Linked DNA regions of Homo sapiens: region 2 is linked to region 1. Evidence: fine-mapped expression QTL. A gene starts in region 1. The other region holds a variant in brackets. All regions are shown on one strand. Distances are from middle to middle. Region 1 holds the start of RABAC1 (Rab acceptor 1). Region 2 has its middle 8.9 kb from the start of ERFL.

What was found.
Region 2: its variant is fine-mapped to the expression of RABAC1 in whole blood (INTERVAL, PIP above 0.99).

What each region holds. Positions count from the first base shown.
Region 1 is chr19:41,958,021-41,960,918 of GRCh38, forward strand. RABAC1 (Rab acceptor 1) reads right to left here and starts at 1,301. Exons shown (of 5, transcript NM_006423.3): 1 at 1,217-1,301; 2 at 716-928; 3 at 266-363. The coding sequence starts at 1,272. RefSeq lists silencers at 509-578, 1,029-1,278 and an enhancer at 1,389-1,678.
Region 2 is chr19:41,935,930-41,938,827 of GRCh38, forward strand. No RefSeq gene overlaps it. Among named protein-coding and RNA genes, the nearest start is that of ERFL, 8.9 kb to the left of the region's middle. RefSeq lists enhancers at 1,678-1,747, 1,768-1,837. The variant G/A (reference allele first, on the strand shown) is at 1,714.

The sequences.
Region 1 (2,898 bases):
GTGGTTTGAAAAGGAGTAGGTTTAAGGCACAGCAGCCAGGTGGATCCTGGGTTTGAGGAATAGCAATTTGAGGGGGCTGAGACTCGATGGAAGGATCGGTTGTGTCTGAGATTTTAAGGGATCAGGTTTGGGGGATCTAGTGTACATCTAGGCTTGGGCGGACTTGGGTTTTGAAGGACTTGGATTTGGGGTCTGAGGTCTGTCTGCATTCCAAAAGACCAAGATTTGAGGGACCAAGGATTCATCTGGGCAGGGGGTTTCTCACCAAAGAGCACAAGCTTGGACTCCAAGGTGCGCAGATAGAGAATGTAACAGGCGCCGAAAAAGACAGCCAGAGCCACCAGCAACATAGGGGACGTCACCCTGGAGGAGGAGTGCAGGGAGGCAGCGGTTAGACAGCTGGGGCTGGGCCAGCCCGACGGCCCTGGCCTTCTCCACCGGCGGGCGGCAAGCTACATCCTGGAGACCAGGGAGGGCCAGGTGACATTTAGTCACACTGCATCCTGGCCAGGGTGATGGTGGGGTAGGGGACCTGGCCCTTTGGTGACAAGGTAGTCTAGCAGAGCCAATCCTTGGGGGCGGGGCCTGGGCGGTGAGAAGAGGGCCCTGGGCGGTGAGAGGAGGGACCGGGCGGTGAAGGGCGGGGCCTGAGCGGCGAGAGGAGGGGTCCAGCCGGTCGGGGCTAGTGCGGGTGCGGGGCCCGGGAGGCACTCACACACAGTACAGGATGAGGCCCAGGAACACGAACACATAGTTGCTCTGGTAGTACTCCACGTTGCGTACGAGGCGCTGGCACAGCTCTCCCAGGTTGCGGGGCCGTGAGAAGCGCTGCTGGTCCACGAAGGTGCTCCAGGGCCGGATGGTCGCGCGGCGCCGCTCCAGCCACTCCCGGCCTGCACCGGAGGGAATCAGCTTCGGCAGCAGGGTCCTGCGGGGGGTGGGGCCGGGTCAGTGGTGGACCGGGATGGAGCCCCAGACCCCCGCAAAAGAAGGGGACTAAGGGTGCCTGGACTCCCTCCCGGGACCCCAGATTCCTGTACAGCAGGCAGGGAGGGGACTAGGGGCCCAGACTCCAGGGTCCCATTAGAGGAGACCGGGGCCAACACTTCTGCGGCTCGGGGCTGGGACTCCAGGCTCTCGAGGGAGGAGGGAGGAGGGGGCCGGGGGCCCGGACTCCCGGGTCTCTGGTCCGAGGGCCTAGAGCCAGCTCGCTCACGTGCCGCTCAGCCCTTCCGCCTCGGCATCTTTCTGCTGGTCCTTCTGCGCTGCCATGTCTGCGTCGTGAGGGGTAGAGCTGCTGTAACCAGCCCGGTACCCTGAAGACCCCGCCGGCCCCGCCCGACGCCGGCCCCACCCAGCGGAGTCGACGTGGCGCAGCCCCGGAGCAGCTGGGGACTGTAGTTCTGCCGCCGAGTATTGTGGGAGTTGTAGTCCTGACGGTGACTAAGAGGATGGGCGCTATGATGGCGGTCTGACTCGCAAAACACCTTGGGAGATATAATCCCAGAAAGTGACGGCGCGCGCCTCTGGGTATTATAGGAGTTGTAGTTTCAGGAGGGTGCATGTGGGCTGTCAGGAGCGAGGGCGTTATGGGAACTCTAACGGCAGAAGCGGGCGTTGTGTACTCTCCCAGGGAAGGCACAATGGGGACCGTGCAGAGCTGTCCTTCTGACTCTAGAGGGCATAAAAAAACACCTGGAGGGCTTGCTAAAACAGATTCCTGGGCCCTAGCCCAGATGTTTTCATTCAGCAAGTCTGGGGTGGAGCCCATAATTTCCATTTCTGAGTTCCCAGGTGATGCTGATGCCCCTGGTCCATGGACTACATTTTGAGTAGAAAGATTTAGATAATTTGTGGGAATTGATTCCTTCCTCAAGAGATTGAGGCTAGTGAGGGGGCCATGGTTGCTGGAGGGGTATCTGAGGTTGCCCCCTGCCCCACCTTGTGGAGTCCCAAAGATGAATGAGTTGGGGCTAGGGACACCTCCGACCCCGCCACACACACCTTTGGAGAGAAGGGAGTGAAGTTGGGAAAGACAAAAGGTTGAGAAGTTTTGTGGGCTTTTTTGAAATGGAGTCTCGCTCTTGTTGCCCAGGCTGGAGTGCAATGGCGCAATCTCGGCTCACTGCAACCTCTGCCTCCTGGGTTCAAGCGATTCTCCTGCCTCAGCCTCCAGAGTAGCTGGGATTACAGGCGCCCGCCACCACGCCCAGCTAATTTTTGTATTTTTTTAGTAGAGACGGGGTTTCACCATGTTGGCCAGGCTGGTCTCGTACTCCTGACCTCGTGATCTTCCTGTCTCAGCCTCTCAAAGTGCTGGGATTACAGGCGTGAGCCATTGTGCCTGGCCCACAGGGCTGGAATTCTAATTGAATTCTAATGGGGTGAACCAGAACAGGGCCTCAAGAAATGTGTGTGGAAGTATAGGGAAGCCTGGGCTCCCTTAAGCAGACTGGGATCCTAATTTTCCAAAGCAGCTGGGTGGGGCTGGAAGGAAAATATCTATATGGGATAACCAGGTGACCTTTTTTTTTTTGAAAATTTTTTTAAGTAGATAAGGGATTTTGCTGTGTTGGCCCAGTAGGTCTCAAACTCCTGGACTCAAGCGATCCTTCTGCCTGGCCTTCCCAAGTATTGGGATTACAGGTGTGAGCCACCATGCCCAGGTTCAAGTGACTTTTTTTTTTTTTTGAGACGGAGTCTCACTCTGTCGCCAGGGCTGGAGTGCAGTGGCACAATCTTGGCTCACTGCAACCTCCACCTCCTCCTGGGTTCAAGCGATTCTCCTGCCTCAGCCTCCCGAGTAGCTGGGATTACAGGCGCCCGCCACTATGCCCAGCTAATTTTTTGTATTTTTAGTAAAGATGGGGTTTCACCATGTTGGCCAGGCTGGTCTCG
Region 2 (2,898 bases), 22 kb before region 1:
ACTTAATCCGCCTGATTGAATGTTTTGCTTTCGCCCAAATTGAAACATTAAACAACACGGGACGAGAAGAGGCGGCCGCAAATCACTCATGAAAGATTCATCTTCTCCCAGGCAGCCGCCACCGCCCGCCTCCAAGGCTGCCCGCCCCAGCCGGGAAGCCTCAGGGTGGGGGTGGGGGTGGGGCAGCACCCCTGCTCACTCTGGGGAGCCCCAGCCCTAGTGGTCTGGGGAAGTTCTTCCCACTGTCTCGCCTCAATCCTACAGGTGGTCTCAGAGACTAGAACCCTGGATCCCTCGGCCTTCCCTGGACAGCATGACCTTAGCCCTGTCCCTGTCCCTCTCTGGCTGGGGAATCCTTGCCCTCTCTGGGGTCCATCTCTCCAGTTACCTTCCTGGACCAGCCTGGACCTTTGGGACATGGAAGGGGCTGCTCAGAGTTGGGGGATGAGGTCTGGGAGCCTCCTCCCCGTGCAGTGGGGCTTTCTGGGTTCTTGATCCAAGAGTGGGGGTGGTGTCTGGGGGCTGAGTCAGAGGGAGGTGGCCGCTGTGTCAGGATCAGTGCAAATGGGCAGACAGGGAGTGTGTTCCCTGCCACTTGGGAGCTCAGTGTGTCTCTGTGTCTGCCTGCATATATGACTGTGTATCTTCTGTCTCGCTCTGCCCATGTTGGTGTAACTTGCTTTGCGATTGTCCCTGTGTCACTACACTCAGGTCTCGGTGACCCTGCGTGTGACGGTAACTCTGTGGGCTTGTGGGTATGTCTGTCTGCCTGTCTGGCACTTTCTGTATGTGCGTCCTGTGGGCAGCATTTTTGTGTGGTGTGTGTCTGTATCAGTGTGACTTTTGGGGTGTGGCTGTGTGTGACTCCCTGTGTGTAAGTCTGTGGATGACTGTGTGCCGTGTCTGTCTGTCTGTCTGTGTGTTGCCTGCTCTGGGTCTGTCTGCAGGTCTGTGTTGAACTATTTCTGTGTCTGGGTCTCTTTTCTGCATCCGCATGTCCCTGTGTCTCTTTCAGCCTCTGTCTCTGTCTCTGCCTGAGGGGGCACCTGCTGGGGCCACTAGAGGAAGGCCTGGGTGCGGAGAAGCTGGGGAGAGAGGAGGCAAGAAAGACGGAGAGACAGGACAGCGGTGACGCCTGAGAACCAGGGAGCAGGGAGCAAGCGCGAGGGAGCTGGGGGGGCCGTTGTGGGCGCCACGGCCGGAGTGGGTGATCAATATTCGATTTAGGTTTTAATTCCGGGGCTTTTGGAGCCTGTCAGCCCTGATGTATGAGCTCACACTGGGGCCGCCCAGCCAGCCACCCCACCAGTGCCCATGGCCTGGTGGCCTGTCCTGGGCTCCCTGGCCCTGCCGGCGGTGGACTATAGGAGAGGGGGGAAGGGGAGAGGGGCCCAGTGAACTTGAGCTTGGTCCCTTGCCCACCCAGTGCACCTATGGCCCCTGCTCCTGCCTGGCCTGCCAAGCAAGGGGCCCCTAGAGGTCCTCAAACACCTGGTCGGGTCCCACAGCCTGCCTGTCTGCATGGACCTCATGTTCAGACACACACATAGCTCTGGGCTCATATATGCCTGTGCCCATGCAAACTCTAACACATACACCCCGGGTTCAAACACACATGTGCACACACAAGCCACCATGCATCTCCTCTGACATACATGTGTGTCCACATACAAACTCTGACACACATACGTGGTCCACACACATAACCCCAAC[G/A]CATAGACACATAAAAGCACCACATGAACCGGAGGTGGGAACCCTGGGGACACAGCATTCTGGCAAGAGAGGCAAGAGACGGAGACACAGAAACTCAGACGGGCTAACAGTGAGAGATGAGAGAGACGGACCAGTGAAGAGCTCAGAGAAGAGCTTGAGAGTGGGGACAGACGCGGAGAGCCCCCGAGGGGAGGTTGGAGGCCACAGGGCAGAGCAGTGGACAGGGCTCAGCAGTGAGGGGGATGGGAGCCCCCCCAAACCCTGTCTCTTTCTCAGGAAGATGGATCCACCGCCCTCCCTGATGACAATGCTGTCTGCGCAAACTTTAATTAACACTTTGAGTTAATTAGTTCGAGATCATTTAGGAGTAAAATGTTTTTATTAGGGAGGCTGCGAGCCTGTTGATGGATGGGGCGCGATTCGCTCTTCCGCCTGCGGGGACAGCCGGTAAACAGAAATCAATCAGGGGCCTCCCAACCCAGCCCCCCCAGAGCCAAGCTCCCAGCCTAGAGCCCAGGAGTGGAGGCTCCCAGCCTCCTCCTTCCCCCAGGCCCCAGATTTCAGGCCCCAGCCCCTCCTCCCTCAGACCCAGGAGTCTAAAACCCCAGCTTCCTCTTCCCCCAAGACCTACGAGTCCAGGCTCCCAGCCCCTCCTCCATTAGGCTCACGAATCCAAGCCCCCAGCAGTCTCTTCCCTCAGACCCAGGAGTCCAGGCACCCCTGCAGCCTCCTCCCTCAGACCCAGGAGTCCAGGCCCCCAGCAGCCTCCTCCCTCAGTCTCATGAGCCCAGGCCCCAGCCTCTCCTCCCTCAGACCCAGGAGTCCATGCCCCCAGCCTCTCCTCCCTCAGACCCAGGAGTCCAGGCCCCCAGCCCCTCCTCCCTCAGACCCAGGAGTCCAGGCCCCCAGCCCCTCCTCCCTCAGACCCAGGAGTCCAGGCCCCCAGCCCCTCCTCCCTCAGACCCAGGAGTCCAGGCCCCCCAGCCCTTCCTTCCTCAGACCCAGGAGTCCAGGCCCCCCAGACCTTCCTCTCCCAGACCCAGGAGTCCAGGCCCCCAGCAGCCTCCTCCCTCAGACCCAGGAGTCCAGGCCCCCAGCAGCCTCCTCCCTCAGTCTCATGAGTCCAGGCCCCAGCCTCTCCTCCCTCAGACCCAGGAGTCCAGGCCCCCAGCAGCCTCCTCCCTC